3 linked regions of the Homo sapiens genome follow. The protein of the gene in region 2 interacts with the protein of the main gene of each other region in a biochemical or structural test. Each region holds a gene or a part of one and is shown on either strand. Other genes may lie near its edges.

The links. The genes of interacting proteins can lie anywhere in the genome.
Region 1: the proteins of FCN1 (region 2) and DMBT1 form a complex in vitro, tested with the Homo sapiens proteins (one study listed by IntAct).
Region 3: the proteins of FCN1 (region 2) and ELN form a complex in vitro, tested with the Homo sapiens proteins (one study listed by BioGRID).

What each region holds. Positions count from the first base shown.
Region 1 is NC_000010.11:122,563,732-122,570,753, reverse strand, and holds part of DMBT1 (scavenger receptor cysteine-rich domain-containing protein DMBT1 isoform e precursor), read right to left. Parts: intron 4,788-7,022; coding exon 4,758-4,787; intron 593-4,757; coding exon 545-592; intron 1-544.
Region 2 is NC_000009.12:134,914,902-134,922,598, forward strand, and holds the start of FCN1 (ficolin-1 precursor), read right to left. Parts: upstream 3,012-7,697; 5' UTR 2,971-3,011; coding exon 2,868-2,970; intron 1,561-2,867; coding exon 1,447-1,560; intron 1-1,446.
Region 3 is NC_000007.14:74,023,977-74,031,172, reverse strand, and holds the start of ELN (elastin isoform a precursor), read right to left. Parts: upstream 3,001-7,196; 5' UTR 2,986-3,000; coding exon 2,904-2,985; intron 1-2,903. UniProt on the Homo sapiens protein: Major structural protein of tissues such as aorta and nuchal ligament, which must expand rapidly and recover completely.

The DNA.
Region 1 (7,022 bases), on a different chromosome or scaffold from region 2:
TGTGCCAATCACTGTGTTACCGTACTGGCTCCAGGCTGGGCTAAGATGCCGCACAAGCATCCTTTGCTCTACTTACCCTCCCCCAACCTCTTCTGCTGCCACAGCCTCTATTCAACAAGTCACACAGTCTATTCACAGCCCCATCCTAGTCACAAGATTGAATGTCAAAAGATATCTGGCTGTTTCTATAGCTAAAACACACCCTCAAATGACAAATATTCACCATCACTGAAATATTCCCGAGAAGGTGGTTCAACAAGAAAGAAAGATGGTTTTGAAAGAAAACCAACCATTCCAGAATGCAAAACTAAACCATCACAAAGTGGCTGCATGGAGGACCATGCCCCCTTGGGGAGCCCAGTCTCACTTGGTAGTTGGATTATCAAGGGCACACCCCAGGCATTGTAGCCTGGGTTCAGTCAGCCCAAACACTGAATGCCAGAGTTGCTAGAAGTATGGCTTCTGCATCTCTTCTGGATCAGAGATGAACCTAGGGGTGCAGTGGGGTAATGAGCCCACAGGGTTCCCCCATAATAGACCTTACCTTCTGCTACAGTTGGATCCAAGGGCACCTCCGAGGGAATCAGTGAAGCTGCGAGGTGGAAAAGGAAGAGCTCATTGATGGTAGCCCTTGCTTGGGGAGGGCTGGTCCCTGGCTTCCTCAGCTCTCAAGCAAGAACTGGAAGCCAGGGCCTAAGGGCACCCTCCATTGCTAAAAGCCAACTATGTGCCAATCGCTCCATCACTGAAATGGCCCCAGGCTGGGCTAGGATGCCACACCAGCATCCTTTGCTCCTGTTACCCTCCCCACACCTCCTCTGCTGCCACGACCTGTATTCAAAAAATCACCAAGTCCACTCATAGCCCCATCCTAGTCACAAGATCCAATGTCAATGACAACTGGCTGTATCTATAGCTAAAACACACCCTCAAATGACAAACATTCACCATCACTGATATACTCCTGATAAGATGGTTCAACTAGAAAGAAAGGTGGTTTCGAAAGAATACCAACCTTTTCAGAATGCCGAAATAAATCACTCACAAAGTGGCTGCATGGAGGACCATGTCCCCTTGGGGAGTCCAGTCCCACTTGCTGGTTGGATTATCAAGGGTACATCCCATGCATGGTGGCATGGGCTCAGTCCAGTCCATACGGCAAATGCCAGAGTTGCTCTAGAAGTGAACATTCTAACCACAAACTCCTCTTTGGGGAACACGCCATGGGACAGTGTCCTTGAAGGTTTCTTTGGGAACTAAAGGACCCCTTGGTGTCCACACACTTCCTGGCACTACGCAAACAAAGGAAATCAACACTGGGATTTGCTGGGTTGGGTCCAGGAGAAGTTCTCTTTTCCATTGAGGATATTAAGTAGCTTTTATTTGTCATTTAATTCCAAATAAAGAGAATGCTTTGGTTCACTCCTCAATTTGATGTTGGTATACATTTATGTTTTAAGGACCAGCAGTTCCTCCATCCTCGTCAGCTTTTAAAGGAGGAGAAACTGCCACTTAGGAAGATATATATTTGGTATCCCAGGCCGGGGGTGGTCGTGATGCTGCTCATCAAAACCACTCCATGAGGTGATTGCATCAGCAGGCTCTGGGGGGTGAGACTGAAGCCTGCCTCCACTATATCCAGCTTTAGAAGGACTGGCCGATGATCCCTTGACCTTCATTGTCTATGAAAAGGGCCAGTACCACCTGCCCTCCAATATCAATTAAGACATGACTTACTGCAAAGCAGGTAAGCTGTAGAGCACACACATATGTACGCACACATACTTATGTGTGGTAATATTGACTCAGAGTTGCAGATACACAGAGCAAGGTGATATCCACACTACCTGAGCACATGACACCAGCATCTTCCCTGTGGCCACATTCGTGGTTGTACCATCCGCTGTGGGGACAGCTTGACAGGTAGGACTCCCTTCCCAAGCAATGCAAGTCACCCAAGGGAATGTTACCCAAGCCCTGACCAAAGTGGGCCCCGCCCAGGGCTGACATGGAATAGCCACAGCCGAGCTGCCTGCAGACAACATCTGCATCCTGGGCGTCCCAGCTGTCATCACACATAGTGCCCCATTAGCCTTGGTACAGGACCTCCACCCGGCCCTGACACCGGTCACCTCCATTCACCAGCCTCAGAGGCAGACCTGCAGTGACACAGCCAGAAGCTTTTATCTTGGTGCTCTCGGCCCCCTTGACTTGCATCCCTACCCTCCTCACTCCTCCTTCTTCCTCTCACCACCCTGCTTATTTACAATCTTTCTCCCAGCAGGATCTTAAGTATCCTTGTTCTTCCATGTTCTCTCTTTGCCCTCTTCTCATTCTGTATTTTCCCCCTGGAGAACCTCATGTACTCTGAGAACTTTCCAGAAGACCCCCAAATCCACCTCTCTGGTTCTGACTCAGCCCTGACAGCCCAGCCCTGAGCTCTAGACCAGCATTTTCAGTGGCCTCCTGGCCATCCTACCCCCCACATCATCCCAAACTCAACACAGCCTCTTCCCTCCGTTTGAATTAAGGATGTCATCATGCTCCATATTAACCATGCTGGGAATAAGGGCATCATATTCGACTCCTCCTTCTCCTCACATCCTACATCTAACATCACCAAGGTCATTCCTTCCGTGTCGTTCCCACTGCCATTTCACTGGGATAAGCCTTCATCCCCTTGAACCTGGCCTCCTCCCAGCTGAATCCTCAGTGTCTGCTCTTCCTTTCTCTAGTCCATCCACATTCATTGATTCAATCAGCATCGATGGAGTGCTTACTCTGCACCCATTTCTATACTAAGAGGATTCACTGGTCTCCAGGTGGTTTTCAAGTTTTATCTTTAGAAAGTACAAATATATTCAATTCAATTCCTTGCTCAAAATGCTTCAGTACACTCTCCAGTCCCATCAGGATCAAGTCCAAGAGCAAGCCTCGACCTACTTTTCCAGCCTCCTCTCCTGGGAGGGGCTAATTGAGCCTGCTTCCCACCATGGAGCTGGCCATGCTGGGAAGTCAATAAGCACCATGTTCCTGCCCGACGTGATGCCACTAGACCACCCACTGGGGTAAGCTGTATTGATGGTGTGAGGAAAATAGGTACAGGTCCTGAGGGGTGCAGCCCACCGTCCTGACAGTAGGAGCCAGATCCTGGGTGTGGCTTTTCAATGGTGAGTTTGAGATTATGAGAAACTTGTGGTCACAGAGTGAGAGGCTGGAATGGGATGCAAAGGGAGGGGGCAGGTTGCTTTTCCTCCCAGAGGGAGGAAAGGCCAGCTGGACCATCTTCAGGGTATCCCCAAAGTACATTCTGGACTTCCCATGCTCTGTCCTTCCCCAGTCTCAGGGACATAATCCATGGAGATGCCTGTTCAGACCTGAGGCCTTATTCGGAAGGGCCCCTCTTACGAGCAAAACACCCTACCTTCTATGCCATCTGCAACTCTTCTGGATCAGAGATGAACCTAGAGGTGCAGCAGGGCAATGCGCCCCCTCCTGGTCACCCTGTGAATGGTCCCTCCAGGAGAGTGCTCGGTCTCCCTGCCTCAGCCTCTCCCTTGCTCTGTGTTGGTCAGAAATCTGCCTTTCCCAGGCCATTTCTGGATCTCTCAAGTCATGTCCTGGAAGGGGAGGGACTGACCTCAACAAGGCCAAGGGCCCAGGAGCAGAGTCATCCTAAGTGAACACATGGAAGGCCCTGAAAAATTAAACTTGGGCACAAAGTTCTCTGCACATTCTCACTGGAGAGGCAGGGACATTTAGCCAAAGTCAAAGACCAGGGCAGGGGTAAGAGGAGGCACCCATCCTAGCCTCAAATCTCTGCCCTGCTACTCACCAGACACATGATCTTAGACATAGAAATATTGACAAATTAGCTAACTGTGCCCTGGTTTTCCCATCTGCAAAATGGGTATAATCGTATTACTTACCTCAAAGTGTTCTTGGAAAGATTTCATGATAATAGCACTCACTATGTGCATTAGTTGAGCACTTATTAGGTGCCAGGTGGTATTTTAAGTATTTTTTAAAAATATATCAATTCATTTCATACATGAAAATCATTTTATGCAGGGTATATAACAAGTGCTTGGTAGATGTTAGTTATCTTCAAGATACCTGTCATTATTAGTGAAAAGAAAAGGTAGGCCGGGCGCAGTGGCTCATGCCTGTAACCCCAGCACTTTGGGAGGCCGAGGTGGGTGGATCACGAGGTCAAGAGATCAAGACCATCCTGGCCAACATGGTGAAACCCCATCTCTACTAAAAATACAAAAATTAGCTGGGCGTGGTGGTGCGCACCTGTAGTCCCAGCTACTCTGGAGGCTGAGACAGGAGAATTGCTTGAACCCAGGAGGCGGAGGTTGCAGTGAGCTGAGATTGCACCACTGCACTCCAGTCTGGTGACAGAGCAAGACTCCATCTCAAAAAGAAAAAAGAAAAAGAAAAAAAAAGAAAAGGTACTGACCTTTATTTTCAACTATCTCTCCTCACACCAAACTGAAACTAACCTCATCTGATAAATGACTGAGAGTCAGAGAGCAAGAGGAAGGAGAATGACAGCTGGGATTGGCCGAGTGTGCACTTGAGACATGCCCCAGGTCTTGGCACGCACGTCTCCTGTCCCCCCGGCATTCCTGCATTCGACAAGGCAGGCGTTTGCTCTGTGACCTCAGCTGTGCTCAGCCTCAACTAGCCAACAGTAGCAGAGGAGAACTGGCCAACCCCACCAGGGAAGAGGAGTGAAGAAAAGGTCTTACCGTAGTCTGTAGTCCTTGGGATCCACCCACCTGGAAAGAACACAAATTCGTCTTAGAAACACTGTTTAGAAATGATTTCCTACAAGTCACAGAAATTGGCTTTAGCTTCACCGTACAATCACACCAGAGGGCGCTGTGGCTCAATCTTGGGTTTGTGTGTCCCCGACGTTCTTGCTAAATGAATTCTGCAATAGCGGATTAAAGCAAGTGGATTGGATATGAGGAGCTCAATCATTTTAGATGTAATGAAGCATATGTCTCTTTACTAGGCCCCTAACACTACAGCTTATGGTGACAGGATGTAATCTATGCTTGGAAAGAAGGGCTGGACAAGAGAAGACAGCTTAAGCTCGTTGTCCAGTCTGAAATTTGAGTATAGCTGGCATTGACAACAGCCACTCAGATGACCCCTAAAGAAGAAAATATGTTAATGTCAGATATTCTGTTCCTTCTGACTCATAACCTGAAAACATTTTATTCCATCTTGAAGCAAATGGAAATCTAGAGATCCCTGGATCTTTATATTCAGTGAGGCCAGACAAGGTCCATCGGACTCAACTGTAGCTTTTGAGTTTCTTTTTGAGCAGTTCTAACTATACTCGTGAGTGTTGATATTTAACAACTTTTATATATTTTAGAGGTCTTTCAAAGATCAGAGAGAGTATTTATTCATTTAAAAAAAAGGATAAAACTCATCCTATCTTGTAATCACCATATGGATCCATTAGATCCTTTTATAAATCCAAGATTCATTATTGGCTTCTGATTTTATTTTTCCTATGTCTTGAAGCATTTCACTATTTCATCATCCAAGAAAGTATTGCATCATTATTCATCAATTATTAAATAGTAAGAAAATGATAGAATGGTGAAGTTGCCTAGAAGGAAGATGAACTAGTGAAATAAGTCATAATTCTTCCATGCCCAAAGTATTGTATTATCTTTCAAGAAGATTTTTTTTAAGATTGGAGACACTTTCTTCATAGTCTGTTTTTAGCTTTCATTGAATGCAGTTAAAAATTCAAATTTTTTCATTTTCTACTTGTGATGGCAAAGAGAAGAAAACTGACAAGGGAAGATGTTTCTGCAATAATTAGATGAACCAGAAGAGGAATATAGAGACAAGATATAGCACTCCAGATACTAATAATGGTAGAATTGATTGTACAACAGAAATCTCAGACTATGAGTCTTCAGATGATGATATCCTAGATGAATTTCTCAAATTCAAGAATCCAGGGTCAATGATACAATTCTAAGGACAAAAATAAAATACAGTACTCTTACACACTTCGATAGGGATTTCATCACATGATATTTTGCAACAAGAACTTCAACCATCTTATTTTGCTAAAAAAAAAAAATACATGTGATGGTATTCTTTTGTCTTTTATGATGTTTATATACCAAAATGTATGTGATACAAAAAGGTCTGCTATGTTTAAATTCTTATTAACAATTCCAGCATACTTTCTTTCATTATTCCTTTTCTTTTTACTTCCTGGTAAAAGGAGGATTAAGGCATTTGACAAAATTATCAGATTATTATTTTATTTTTAGAGATAGAGTCTTGCTCTATTGCCCAGGCTAGATTCAAATTCCTGGGTTCAAGCGAGCCTCCTGCCTCCAGCCCTAGAGTAGCTGGAACTACAGGCATGTGTCACCATGCCCGGCTCTTCAGATTCTTTGTAAATGTGGGTCCTGAGAGCAGTGACAGTCACAGTTCAGAGATTTGAATTTCTCTAATGGAACCAACAGGCCAGTGACAGGACTTGCCGTATGTCAGAGAACATCTTCACCTGCCTCAACAGCCTGAATATGAGCTCCATGATGGGCTCCCCCAGCTGCCCTGCTTCATATTGATGGCTTAGGAAGGGGGCCACTGAAACCATGTGGCTATGCATCCCTGAAAATGAAGAAGAAACTCGCAATAGAAACCACAACATTCTTTCAACAGAGATAGCAAACTAGGGAACTCTGTACCAGAACATCCCCACCTCTTTTCTGACATGCCATCCCTGCTCCCACACTCAAGAACGAGCTGATAGATGTGCCTAAGAGAGCCTTCCATTCAAAACTCGGCCATTTAAACACAGTCTACCTGACACCATGCAATTCCCACTGCCAGGTCCCAGGTATCCTGCCTAATCCCATGGCAGTCGAACTCATCCAGCCAGAGCCTTGACAAGGCTCATCCACAGCATGGAACACCACATTGAAGTTGTTCCTGGTTCTGCTGTGTCCACACATTTTGAATAGACCCTT
Region 2 (7,697 bases):
CCCCACTCTGCCTTGAACCCCTTCTGGTTCCAGGAGCTCTCAGAATTGCTAGCCATGGATTTAGCCTGGGGGTGACTGCAGATGGAGGTGAGGGATTGAGGGAGGGGCCTGCACCCCACCTTGGGCTCAAGGCAAGGTGCACCTTGCTCCTGTTTGTGCCTTGGGAGCAACCTGGGTTTCACACTCTGTTGACCATAAGCCTGGACCCAAGTCACCCACACAGAGCTCTACTGCCTAGCAAGGGACCAGGTTCTGGAACAAAGAATGCGTCCTCAGAGAGCCTCATCCTACCACGTCCCCACACGGAGAGGGTGGGCGCCACGTGCAGCCGCTGCTGCCAGGGAGGATCCGGTTCCACCGTGCGCCTGAGCTCCTGGGGTGTCACACAGCGCTCCACGTGGTTCTGGCCAGAAAGGTGACCCTCCCGTCCCCGATGCCAGCCAAGAGGCAGCCCCCAGCCCGCTCGCTGACCCCAGTGGCTGGGGAGAGTGTATGGGGGCTGGTTCTTGCTTTAGGGTATATTAGCCAGCCATGCCCACTGGTAGAAGCCTGGTTCAAGGGAAGTCTGAGCCAGACTTGATTCTTCTCCTGCCAGGGAAGGTCTTCCTCCCCAGTGTTCCCTCAGCAGGGGATCGGGACCGCACTCTCAGGTCCAGCCTGCGGAGTGGGCACAGAGGACCTGGCCCCGGACACCCACACGGAAGCCTAGACACGTCAGTGAAAGTCCAAGTCATAGGGACATTTGAGCTTGTCCCATCTACACTGGGACATCCCCACCAAGTGCTCCGCAGGCATCATCTTGAATGCGTCCAGGCATGGGGAGCTCACCCCCTAAGGCAGCGCCCTTTCTGAGTTTTTGTGCACGTCTGCCTTATGCCATGCTTAGGGGGACCCAAAACCACCCAAGGCAGGTGCCTGCTGTTCATTCTCCCATGTTCCCTGCAAATCCACATGCAGAGCTCAGGGCTCAGGATTCGGGTGCCCTCTGTGCCCTGAAGTAGACCAGTCCAAGTCCCAGCCCCACTCCTTACTGGTTTGTCAAGTAGGAAAGCCTGTGACCTCTTTGAGTCTCAGTTTTCCCATATGAGGCAGGTGCAGAAGAAAGCGGTCACCTCAATTTTCAGGTGAGAAGGTGGAGGGACACAGAGCTTAGAAGTCGTGCCAGTAGCTGAGCAAAGCTGGTATTGGATCAAGGACTAGGAGACAGAGCTACAGAAGCATGTCCAAATGTGAGCTCATGAAATAGTTAGGAAAGACCCTCCCTCCATTTCAGAACCCTGTTGGGCCCTGGGAGTCAGCTCTGTTCCTGGCTCTAGCAGGGGCCTGACCCAGGCTCTTGATCTAGGAACCACGGTGGGGGTGTTGCCCAACTCTGCATCCAGTTTCATAAAGAGCAAGAGCCAGTGCCCCTGCCATGCCTGGCCTCCCCACCCGGCCCGCACCTACCTCTCTCTCCAATGACACCTGCCTCTCCCTTTGGCCCTGGGGCCCCGGGCAGCCCCGGGCAGCCTCGGAGAATGGTGAGCTTGTCAGAGCCCTCCAGGCCCACCACCTTCACCTCTGCAGAGAAACACAGGTGCCCACTCAGTGCCTGGCCCAACAGTGGCTGGGAAGTGAGGTTTTCTGCTCTGCTGGGGCCTTGGTCTGTCCTCACCCCTCAGGCACTGGTGAGGCGGAGATGTGATGGGGGGCAGAGCTCTGGCTTTGGAGGCCACCCCGACCTAGGGGAGCCCCATCTCCTCAGTGCTGTGTGTCCTGCAGCAAGTAACTTAACTCCTCTGAGCTTTGTGCCCTGGGCTGCCAAGCGGGGATAATAACAAGGTTGCGGCCAGGATTTGGTTAAAGAATGTGCATTTTAAATCTCTTATTGTAATTTATGGCATTTAGAAAGAGCTTAATAAACAGCGGGCACTTTCAATAACTAATGACAATCAATATTTCTAAGAAACTTGGGGAATTGGGGCTGACAAAGCATTTTCCCTCCCAGACCTTGGGAATGTGGTTGTAGAATTACTGGGCTGGAAGGGGCTTTCTAGGTCCTCTGGAGAGGGGCAGTGTGGGGTCCAAGGACACAGAGCCAGGTGTGGCACAGCTGCAGCCAAACCAAAGTTGTTTACTTCTTTGAAAAAATATTTTTCATTTTGTTCATTACAAAATCTACACGCCCTGCTAAGGGCGCTCTTAGAGACCATGGAACGGAGCAGTGCTCTCACCGGAGACATGGCACTGCCATTTTTGGGGTATTTCCTTTCTGTGTTTCCAGTCCTCCTTCCACTAGAGCAGGCTGTAATTTACTATTTATGTTTCCTTCATAAATATGTTATCAGCCAGGGGCACCAGGCCGTCCTTAGGAGCAGTCTCTTGCTGAGCGTCACAGAACCACCTGCTCCTGAATCAGTGAGGGAAACACCTTACCACCGTTCAAACCCTTGTCCCTATCAACTGATTCCGACTCTCTTGGAGGAGAGCCAGAAATCTGCCTTTTTAACAAACCCCCCAAGTCCGTGTGGCAGCCACCGTATTAGAGGGTCTTAGAGTGCCTCCCTGGTAAGCCCGTAAGAAGATAAAGTCAACAGTATTTTCTTCCTTCTCAGTGACAGATTCCAGACCCACCTATGAAGCTCCAATGGGCAAATCCTGGGCTTTCGAGGCAGACAGACCTGGTGACATCCCTCCCCTATCCCTCCATGACCCTGGGCAATGCCTCAGCTGCCCTGAGCCTCCATGTCCTTGCCTGAGGATAAAACAGATCTGTTGGGCATCTTCACAGGAAGATGTGCATAAAAGGTTTTGCCTGGGACACCCGAGTGTCAGTGAGTGGGGTTGTTACCAGCTTTTAGGGACCAGAAAACCCAGGTCTGTCTCACCTGGACATGTGTCCGCAGCCTGGGCAGGCAGGTTCTTGATATGCAGGAACAAGACTAGCAGGACAGCGAGCCCCCGGGCCATGGTGGCTCCACTCAGCTCCATGCTCTCTGGCCTTTGACTCTGAAGAGTCCCCCAGCTCTAACAGGGCAGAGGAAACCAGCTCTCGCCTTGTGCCACAGTTTCTCAACTCCCTGGGGGACACCCACTTCCTATGGGCTGCTTAGTTGCACCAACAGGAGGTATGAGGTCATCTCAAAGGATGTTTCCTTCCACTAGGCTCCAGCAAGATGCCCACCCCATTGGGCTCTCTTCCCCCAGCAAAGACACCCTGCTCCCAGTCCAGAGAGCTCCTGAGACTCCTCTGCTGGAAAGCATCGGCTTTGCTTGTGGCTTAAGGAGAACACAGCCCCCACACCCCCTTTCCATTCCCCAGCTGTCCCCAAGCAATACTCGGAAACCTTGACCTTAACCTTGGGGGATAAGGAAGGTTTTGCTGAAGACGCTTCCTTGCCTCATCTGTTCCCAGAAAATTCAGGGTTTGTCCGTCATCAGGCACTTATCATGGATGGAGAGGAAAAAAATGTTGAGCACTTGTTATGTCCCAAATACTATTTCCATCATATCATCTTGCACCAGCCCCATTCGGTGGAGTAAATTATTTGAAAGTTACAGCTGGAGAAATTGAAGTCACTCCACTAGTAAGAGCCAGGCATTGGACTCAATTCTGTCTAACGCCTTGTAGATCACTGGGATTGCTCATTTCACCTGAAGGTGGGGATGCCTCTTGTTCCCCCAAATCCCTGAGGCCATGTTCCTACTCCGCATCTCGTGCTGTGAATCATGCTTAGCCAGGCCACGCTGTGGACACTTTGTGCGGGATTTTTAGAACGTATAGAAATAGTCACTAACGAGAGTCAGATGGTAGCAGGACTAAGGAGCAGGGAGAGGTGTTGTTTTGTGGTTTGCAACTTCTCTGAGCCAGCGTGTGTAGACTGGGTTTCCAAACTCAAGGGCTCCCCAGGTGGGAGAGAAGTGGAGGGGCGGCCCAGGGGTGGGGGATCCAGGAGACACAGGACCTTGTGTCCAGGCTCTCTGGGCACCACAACGACTCTCGACTGTGTGTGTTTGTGTGTGTTGGCTCCAGCCTGTTGAGAGACAACGGCAGGAGGCTTCATTGCCTCAGACACCGCTTAGTGTCCCTGAGCTACTGGCCCAGGCGGGAGAGGTCTGGGTGTCAGTGGTGCGGCCTCCTTTCTTGGAGAGGATCCAATTCAGGAGCAGCACTCACCTGGGATTGGGTCAGAACAGGGAGAAAGCCAGCAGGTCTGTGCCCCTCAATTCCATTTGCCAGCTGCCCCCTGGGTGTGAGGGGACCTCCTCTTCCTTGCAACATCAATAGGTTTATTTCAGGTGAGAAGTCAACACCACCTTCAGATATCAAGTCAATGTTCCCAAGAGTATGAAAGAATGCAAGATTCTGGCAAGTTAAAATATCTTAACATTGGATCAACAAAAGTCATTTGATTCCTGGCAATGGCAGTTTAGGTATTTGGGGGCATCCTATTAAGGACAAACAGACAAAACCTTTAAAAAGAGATTTGCTCGAAGGCACCGTCAAGCTAGCTATGTAGTAAAGGATTACTTTGCCAAGCTCTCAGGAGCCACAGAAATCTTAGAGAAGTGAAACTAGTAGTGGGGACCTCTTTTTGCACAGGGATTTGCCAATCTCCAAAAGAGAGGTGAGAAGTTGGGCAGTGATTTCACCATCTTGCAGAGCTGAAGGTCAAAGACTGGGGCCTACGGCCTGCCAAAGGTATGGGTTTGGGGTTGGCTTTCAGAAGGGCTGCACCCTAGCAATAGGATGAGTGAGCAACAACCAACATTCACAAGGGCTGCAAACTGGTTTTGAGACATCTAAGTGTCCCAGGAAAGGAATCTCAACTCCTGGAATTATTGCTCATGCCCCCAGGCTCCTTGCTGAAAGAAACAAAAATCTTCTCTGAAGGAGAATGACATCATCCCAGGTCATTATTTCTGCAAAGTGTTTTATTTTTTTCAAATGAAATGTTAAAACACAATCAACGATAACCAGGCTCATGGGAATAAAAGACAATGTGTATAAGGACCAACAGAAACAACAGAATATAGAAAGAGGTCTTTGGAAGCTGTGGATACAGAAGTTACAACATAATTAACAGGAAAAATGGAAAACCATCCTCAGAGACTGAGAACAAATAAGGATGCTTGTCATCACCACTGTGGTCAACATTGTATTGCATGTCACTGTCCAGTGCAGTAGGCAAGAGAACAAAACCATAAAAAGATTGGAAAGGCAGACACAAAGTTGTTATTTTCAGAAGACATGATTGAGGATGTAGAAAATTCTAGAGTTTCTACAGATAAACTAGCAGAATAAAAAGTTTAGCAAAAATCAATTGTGCTTCTAAAAACTAGCCTCAAAGAATTTAAAAATGAAATTTAAAAAATTTGCATCAGCAACACCAAATTCAAATAACTGTGAATAAGTCTAACAACATCCATGCTGGTCTTCTGTGTACAAAACTATCAAATAGGAACAGAAAGACCTAAAAGAAGATTAAAATAATTAGAAGGATATTCTATATGTGTGGATTAGAATACCAAATATAGGAAAAACATTCATCTTCTCTTAATTTATCTAAATATCCACTGTATTATCAATTAAACTACCATTTTCTGTGACAATTGACATGGTGAATTTAAAATTTATATAAAGGGCCGGGTGCAGTGGCTCACACCTGTAATCCCATCACTTTAGGAGGCTGAGACAGGTAGATTACTTGAGGTCAGGAATTCAAGACCAGCCTGGCCAACATGGTAAAACCCTGTCTCTACTAAAAATACAAAAATTAGCTAGGCATGATGGTGGGCACCTGTAAACCCAGCTACTTAGGAGGCTGAGACAGGAGAATTGCTTGAACCCAGGAGGCGGAGGTTGCAGTGAGCCAAGATCGAGCCACTGTACTCCAGCCTGGACGACAGAGTGAGATTCCATCTCAAAAAATATATAATATATATATTTAGCAGGGTGTGGTGGTACATGCCTGTAGTCCCAGCTACTCAGGAGGCTGAGGTGGGAGAATTGCTTGAACCCGGGAGGTGGAGGTTGCAGTGAGCCGAGATTGCACCACTGCACTCCAGCCTGGGCAACAGAGTGAAACTCTGTCTAAATAAATAAACAAATAAATAAATAAATAAATAAAATTTATATAAAGGCAAGAGGCTGATAGCCATGCTATTCTTGAGCAAGAAAAAACAAGGGTGAGTTGCTTGAAGTGACACCAGCAGTCATTATCAAGCGATAGTGATGGAGACAGTGTGGGGCTGGCTTAGGCGTACACAGCAAACCTAGGGAAGTGAGTAGGGAGTGCAGAAGCAAATCCAGGCACATACGGACCCTAGATTTATGACATGGTGGCTCTAAAGAGCAATAGTGAAAGAATAAACTTTCAATGAGTGGCACAAACTACTGGAGAGTCATATGGAAAAACAAGAAGTTACACTTGACTTTTATCAGATGAAAAAAAAATCCACATCAGGAGAAGGGTAGACCCAAATGTGAGAGGGAAAACAGCAGTTTTAGATCATATTATAAGATCTCCAATAGCCTTGCAGTTATTTTAAATAAGATGGAAAACCACAAACCATAAAGGACAAGTGGAAAAATTGATCATGAAAATAGTATTATTTCTTTTTCAAAATACACCACCGTGGGAGGGAAAAGACGAGCCAGGGTGAGGGAAGAGAGGTTTCAACACACAGAAGTGACAAAAGGCTTGTATCCAGAATAAAGGGTTTCTGTAAATCAACGATGTTGTAGAAAGTGGGAAAGTGACTTCAACAAACGCTTATAAAAGATAATATTTAATAGATGATGGAAGTATGAAAACATGCTCAACTTCATAACTAATCCAAGAAATGAAAACTTAAATCTCATGAGATGACTGCAGACACTAAAATTTTTCTAAACAGCCAACTCTGCAAGGTTTTGGTGAAGAAGTGTCAGAAACCTTGGTACAAGCACTTCGGAAAACTGGCAGTATTCCCAACAATTCCCTACGACCAGCATATTCCATAACCAGCGATGTTCAGCTCAGTTCTACTCAACAGAGAGGTGTGCCCAGCTGGAAAGAAGACACGTGTGAAAATGTCCAGCCCCACGCCGGAAACAACCCAAACGTCCATCCGCAGCAGAATGGGGCCGTCAGCTGAGGTTCGTTCATACTGGAGCATCCTGTAGACCCATAAAATGATCGGATTCCAGCTTCACGCAAAAGCTTTGTTGAAATCCGCAAGCACACGGAGCATCCAGGGCGCCAGCACTAAGGCATGCGAACTGTTCATTTGCATCTGTACAGAGTTTGAAAGTGGGCAAAACTGAACAGCAGTGTGAAGGAATGCATGCTCGGTGGCAACGTGGAGAAAAAGGCCCAGACCATGCCAGTGAGATGACCGCTCCCTTAGCAGGGGCCAGTGAGACGACCGCTCCCTTAGGAGGGGGAGCCCTTAGGCCTGGAAGGGGCACGGGGGGCTGGAGATGGGTTTTGGCTTCATTGGGTGATGCAGGTTTAGTTTATGCACTCTGGTGAATGGGTGTTAAATTTCACTTAAAAGAGCAAGCTTAAATAAACTATTTAAGTAAAATAAATAGAACACATAAGGGTCACCATCGTCCTGTATTGCTCCCACCACAAGCTATAGCCCAGCTGTCTCTGGGAGGTTTGGGGATGTTGAATGCCTGCTGGTTCACTTCCCTGTTGCAGCTCAGGCTTCTGGGAGGTTGAGCAACC
Region 3 (7,196 bases), on a different chromosome or scaffold from region 2:
AGGGCCATTTGCCTGGGCCCTGGGCTCCAGGTTCAAAGAGCTGGAAGCAGCCTGTTTGGGAGCGAGCCTGGGGCCAGCCGATCTTGGCAGGGGGCTTTGCCAAACCAAAGTCCAGGGGGCTGGCTTGGGGAGCAGATAAGACCACACGAAGCTGTTTGTTGTTTGCATGCAGAAGGCTGCCAAGGGTTTTCAAAAACAAGCTGTCCTCCACTGGGTGACTGTGTCCCCTCCCACACAGGGCACATTTGCCCTCATGCCGGGGCCTCGGCAGACACACAGAGCGGGATCGACCTCTAAACCAGTGCTTCTTGGCCCTGGCGACCCCACCGTCACCTGGGAAGCCTGAAAAGTCTGTGTCCAGGTCCCTCTCCAACCAAAGCAAGCAGGGATTCTTGGGTGGGAAGTCTAATAGATAGCCAGGTTGAAAACCCCTGTTCCTACTTAAGGACGGAAAACAATAATTAAAAAAATATTTAAAAAGAGGCAGTGGCTCATGCCTGTAATCCAAGCACTTTGGGAGGCGGAGGTGGGAGGATCACTTGAGCCCAGGAATTCAGACCAGCCTGGACAACACAGCGAGACCCTGTCTCAATTTAAAAAAAATAAAAAAGGTAAAAAAATAAAAATAAAAAAGGAAAATAAAAGAAAAGGAAACCTCTGTTCCAAACCATCTTCAGTTCTGAAATCAGGAAAAAAAAAAAAAAAAATCCCTGATACTATTTCTGGGGGATGGGGAAGAATTATCCCTGGGTTAATTTCTCATGCTCACTTTTGAAACAGCCTGGGAGCTGTGCGGCTTGTCCCCTCCTCCTGCTCCCCCACCCCCGCAACAGGGTTCCTTCCTTGGAGCCGCTGAACTTGCATAAGTGACACCCTCCTCCTTGAGGGAGAAGCCAGGCTCCCCCAGGACAGCCAGGTGAGTGGCAGTGAGCATGTGACTGAGCGCTCCACTCCCTGTGTTGGCTCCCCGACCTCTGCAGACTTCAGTAGCACTTCTGTGCAAAACCCCACACGAGCTCATCAGTTCACACACCCCTTATTTGGACCTAGCAAGTCCAGCCACCTGGGACAGAGCTGAGATTGATCTCTGCAAAGTGTGAGGCCAGCTGGGCGTTTAGCGGTGTCACTGAGGACACAAGGAGAGAGCTGATTCTGCCTAGGGCATGCCTGCTTTAAGGACTCAGCCCCAAGCCTTCCCCTCCCCAAATGTTGCCTGCTAGCTCACTCCTAACCCCCTTGCCCCTTGACCTGGGGCAGAGAGCTGGCTGATACTAACCCCCGGGGACTGCCTTAGCCTGCCGGAGCCTCAGCTTCCTTGTTTGTCAAGTGATGATAATAATTTCTAATTCTCAAGGTTCCTTGATGATGAACTGCCACCCTATAGGTGGTGGCCCCATCTGGGAAGAAGGGTGGCTGGGTGTTTGGGGGCTACACCTGGGGAGGAGGCTGAGACGGACCCGGGGCTGCTGCTTTCAGGCCCTGGCTCGTTGCCCCTGCTGGGGCCCGCCTGTGGGTACCCATGTCCCTTGGCCTCATCCAGGTCCAGCAGCGGACCCTGCACAGGAAGCTGTTCAATCTCACGGAAACAGCTGCAGCTCCTGCCCAGGCCCTTGACTCCACCCCGTGGCCCTCCCGCCCCCCACTCAGCGTTTGGTTCTCATGGCAAGGAGGACTCCCGAGGAAACCAGACTCCACCCAGACCCCCCTACCAAATGCCCTCCTTTTTCCCATGCCCGGGAGCCTCTTCTGTCCTCCCCCGTTGGCCGCGGCATAGCAGCCCCACAGGGCACACCCTCAAACCCCATAACCAACTGTGCCTGGGTTGGGGCACATAGCAGATGGCCCAGCAGTGCCCCAGGATCCACTCCAGCCTCTGTCTCAGCCACACTGCCTCTGCCAGGAGACAGACACCTTCTCCAGCCCGCCTTTCCATGCTTGCGTGCCACATCGCACACACATTCACACACACAGATGTACACACTCCATAACACACACAGTGACAGTCCACACCAGTGTCACACCTGGATGCCAGATCGCCCATGTCTACATGTGTACATGTCTACATGTCTGTCAGGTGGCAGACTTTTGCACACACTAAGGAGCAGCTTCATATACCTCCTCCAAACATACGCATACACCTGCCTAAGGATGAACCTGTGAGCAGACATATGTACCCCTCCAGAAATCCCTTTCCCTGTTCAGTGACACAGCCGGGCATCTGAACACATGCACACCTGTGCATGCACACATACACACACGAGCACACAGCACGCTCATTCCTGTGTGCATGCACACACACACACACACACAAATGCATACCAGGAGTCCCTGCCTGCCTCAGCAGGGAGAACACAGCAGCAGCTTCCCAACCTGCAAACCCATCCTCAGCGGAGCCCTGACCTTCCTGACGGGGGGATCCCGGCTTCCCAGGGGTCAAGGAACCTGCTGAGGTCACACAGCTCACTGCGGTTGAGCTGGTATCAAGCCCAGGTTCCCTGTCCCCAGGGCTGGTGTGCACCCCAGCTGTGTCCACAGGTGTGCAGACTGTGGTGTCTCCAGACCCAGGGGTTCCCGCTGGGCCCTCCCCCAGGATGCTCTGATCCCCCTACAGGGCGGGCACCCGGGCACCTGAGCAGGGGCCCCCTCAGCCCTCGCAGGGCAGCAAAGCCTGGATGCTGGGCTGGGACTATTCTGAGTCGAGGGTGTCTCTTTGACAGGTTCCTCCTGGGCACGGGGCTGGCTCCTGGGAGGGGCAGTTCCGAGGACCCAGTGGCTGAGGGGCTCCCACCTGGGACCCCTTGCAGTTCCCAGGGACGAAGGTCTCCCCCTTGAGCGTCTAGTCACCTGGCCCAAAGGGCCCGCAGCTGTGGGCAGCGCTGGGGACAGGGGCGAGGGGTCCTTACCTCCAGGCCGAGAGGGGTGGAGGATGGACAGCAGGAGCAGGAGGACTCCGGGCCGCGGGGCCGCCGCCGTCAGACCCGCCATCTCGGGGAGAAATGCCCCAGCCCGCTCTCCGCACCTCGTTTTATCCCCAAAGCCTAATTGTTGCCTCGTCGGCTGTGAGGGAAAGAGGGAGGGAGAGAGGGCGGGCGGGAGGGCGGGAGAGGGGGGAGGCCTGGGGGAGGGGGCCGCGGGGAGGGGACAATTACGAAAGGCCCGGCTCACAAGCCTCCCAGGCCCGGGCTGCTGGACTGCGAGCTTTTTTCCTTGACACACACACGCACACACATGCACACAAGCACACACTCACACACACACACTTTCCCCCATCTCTTTCCCGCTTTCCCTCTGCGACTGTTCTTTCGCTGCTGGCCCTGTTCCCGCCAGAAAGAGCGAGGGGGGCCTCTGCCAGGACAGCCCTCGGGAGAGGAAGCAGAAGGGAGGGCCTGGCGGCCAGGCCAAAAATCCCAGCCCCAGCCAAGGCCCGAGTGGCCAGGCCCCCGCCCCTCCGGCTGGGCCCCGGGCCCAGTGTGAGGATACGGGCCAGCTGTCCCGCGCCTCAGCCCCCACCCCGGCCCTCCAGACTCCCCAACACCCCCAGGTCTGGCTAGAGACAGGTTCTGCCCAAAGCTGGGGAGGGGAGGCATTGGGCAGGTCTGGGGGTTTGGGGGGTGCGATGTCTACAGAGGCCGGGGGGCTGCAGGTTGAATGGCCTGGAAGGTAGGCCCGGGTTGGTATTGCTCTGGGAGGGATCTGGGGGGAAGGTAGGGGACCCTGGACAGGGCTGCATTCTGCAGGGGCCAAGGTCTCTGCCTAGCGCCTGAAGCTGGGGAGGAGGTGTTGGGTGGGTCTGGGGTGGATGCCTGCAGATGCCAGGGGGTTAGAGGCAGGGGAATGGCTTGGGAGTTAAGGCCATGTTGGTGCTGTCCCCAGGGGCATCTGGAGCACATGGAGGATCCCGACACACAGGGTTCTATTCTGCATGGGTCAAGGTCACAGCCCTATACCCAGCCCCATGCAGGCCGCAGGGTCTGGTAAAAATCAGGCTGGATCCCCAGGTGCCCTGTGGGGGAACAGGGAGGTGGGAGCCCCCCGCAGACTGACAGGCAGCCCAGCTTCCCATTATCACTGGGTCACCTCCCATCCCCACGCTGAGCACAGCTAGCGCCCACACCAGTCTGGGAGCTTCTCGACTGCTGTTCTCCCGGCCCCTCTGGGAAGGCTGACATTCCGCTGGTGGCCAGGAGGGGGCGGCCTGCACTGAAACAGCTGGGACCACGTTCCTGGAGAACTCTGCATTTCTGCCCCCAGGACTGAGCTGGACGGGGACCCTGGGGGATTTTGGGGGTTGGAGTGTGGGATGGAACAGGGGAGGGTCGTGTCCCCCACCCCTCACTTCCCACTACTGCTAGAGGAGAAGAAATGTGAGACCTAGAGAATAGGAGAGGGAAACTTGTTCCTTGTCCTAGGTCACAGCCAGTCAGGGAACAGCATGGAAGCCACACGCCCTGTGGGCTTTTCCCTGCACCACGATGGCTCCGAGGGATGAGTTAAAGACCCCTTGTGGAGGCAGGAGCACTGTGGCAGTCTGGAGTGCCAGCAGGGGTGGCTCAGCGTGGAAAGGTCAAATGCAGGCATTGGTCAAAGGCAGGTATTGGTGGACCTAGAAGTAAATTTCTGGCTCTAGCCTTTCTGGTAGGAAAACCTCTCCACAGAGCATCAGTTTCCTTATCTGTCTACAGGTGATCAGTATTCCTAGCTAAGAGATTATTGCAAAGACAAATACAACGTGGTCTTGTATTTCTGCTAGATCAAAAATGCTCTGTGTTCAGCTGGTGCTAGGACTGGTGTCAATACCACAGTTGCCGTCACTCGCTCTGCAAGTACTCTGCTTCTAGGACAGCTATCAGGCTTTGGTCTATACGGGGCCACCCCAGGACCCTGGACAAACCCTTCCTTTTCCCTGGGTCTTTGGAGGGAGCAGCTCTGGAATTTTGGAAGGTAGGGGCATGCTGGGAGAATTGTCTTGAAGATGTACGCACACAGCCAGTGTACAGCTCTTACTTACGGTGTGTGTTTATTTGGGGGTGCTTTGAGGGTAGCTGATGGAGATTATGCTGGGGTGAAAGCCCCCCCAAGCCACCCTTTGTTGGTGGGGTTAGGGGCTGCTCAGGGGCAGGGTCTGAAGCTCGATGCCCAGGATGTGCCTGCTGCAGGGGAGGGGAAGTCAATGGTATATCTGCGTGCCTCCGCCTGCCTGGGAAGGAGGAAGGCAGGGGCTACTGTGGGGAGCTGGACCCCTCTCTTCTCGAGGCAGTGACACGGGCAGGAACCAGCTTTCAGACTTGCAAACCGCAGTCTGCACAGAGTCTTTATTAATTCCAGGACGGGGAGAGAGTCCGGAGCCAGGGGGAGAGAGTTTGCAGTGGGGGGATCCAGGAGGGGTGTGGAGGGGCACTCACAGGAATAGACTTGAGGTGGCTGGAACAGACCTCTCCCCTGAGGCCGGGGGCCCTGTGTCCTGCCCCCAGCCTGTGCGCTGCTTCTGCTTAGCAGCCTCTGCTCATTGCAGGAGCTCCACGAACATAACATGCAACAAGATTGCAAAAGGGGGCCTCAATTCACAATCAAATCCATTGCACTGAATATCCATGCCGTGTAGTCTGATGCATAAGATACATAATGTAAGAACTAGAGATGACAGTCATCGGCCACCATCCATTCATTCATTCATTTACTTGTTCATTCAAGACCCCATCAGTACTCAAATGCTTAGTGTCACCTCCTTGCCTAGCTGTATGACTAAATAAGGTCATACATGCAGAATTGCCCACAGAGGGCTACCGGGTGCACCTGGCTGCCTGGTGATCGTTGGTCTTGCCGTTATCATTGACAAGCCTTTCCCGCTTGTTGCCTGGCTCAGTGCCACCAAGGGGCAACCAGATGAGTCACCCACAGGGCATCTCTATCTTCCAGCTCCTCTGGGTGCACCCATTTTGGTAGGACAGAGTTCCCAGTCTCTGGATGGCTCTGAGAACATCGTGCTTTGCTCAGACACCCTCCGTCGCTATCCAGACAAAGTTCAGATTTTTTTTTTGAGACGGAGTCTCGTTCTGTCACCCAGGCTGGAGTGCAGTGGCGTGATCTCCGCTCACTAAAATTTCTGCCTCCCAGGTTCAAGCAATTCTCCTGCCTCAGCCCCCGAGTAGCTGGGATTACAGGCATCCGCCACCACTGCCAGCTAATTTTTGTATTTTTAGTAAAGACCGGATTTCACCATGTTGGCCAGGCTGGTCTCAAACTCCTGAGCTCAGGTGATCCGCCCGCCTCGGCCTCCCAAAATGCTGGGATTACAGGTGTGAGCTACCGCATCCAGCCCCTCCTATGATCTTAAATTTACTAGTAGCCATATGAAATAAAAGAAAACATAAGTAAAACTATTCTTAGTAATATATTTAACACAACATATCTAAAGTATAATCCTTTCAACATCCAATCAAAATAAAAGTTATTGAGATATCTTGCATTCTTTTTTGTACCAGGTCTTAAAACTGGTGTGTATTTTGCATCGAGGGTACGTCTCAATCTGGACTTGTCACATTTCAAGTGCTCCATTAGCCACATGTGGCCAGCAGCTGCCACCGGGGACAGCACTGGTTTAGATCATAAAGGACTGGTGAGATGAGCTAGCCTTAGTTCTTTTTTGGTGGTTTGTTTTCTTTTTTGAGAGGGAGTCTTTCTCTGTCACCCAGGCTGGAGTGCAGTGGCACGATCTTGGCTCACTGCAACCTCCGCCTCCCGGGTTCAAGCAATTCTCCTGCCTCAGCCTCCTGAGTAGCTGGGATTACAGGCACGCGCCACCACGCCTGGCTAATTTTTGTATTTTTAGTAGAGACGGGGTTTCTCCGTTTTGGCCAGGCTGATCTTGAACTCCTGACCTCAGGTGATCCTCCCGCCTCGACTTCCCTAAGTGCTGGGATTACAGGCGTGAACCACCATGCCCAGCCAGAGCTAGCCTTAGTTCTGATGCGCTTGGAAGGGAATCTGAATCCTGCTATGCAGAGGTTCAAAATGGGACGGGGCTTGAGGACAGGGGAGAGGGACAGAGAAGGAAGGATGTCCTTGGAGGCTGGCAAAGGGCACCCGTGACAAGCAGCCCCAAAGGAGTGGCCCTGCCCTCGTGCTGGTGACTGAGCCAGAGAGGGCGGCTACCTCCTGTGGGGTGCCCGGCAGCATCGGCCCAGAGCCAGCACCTC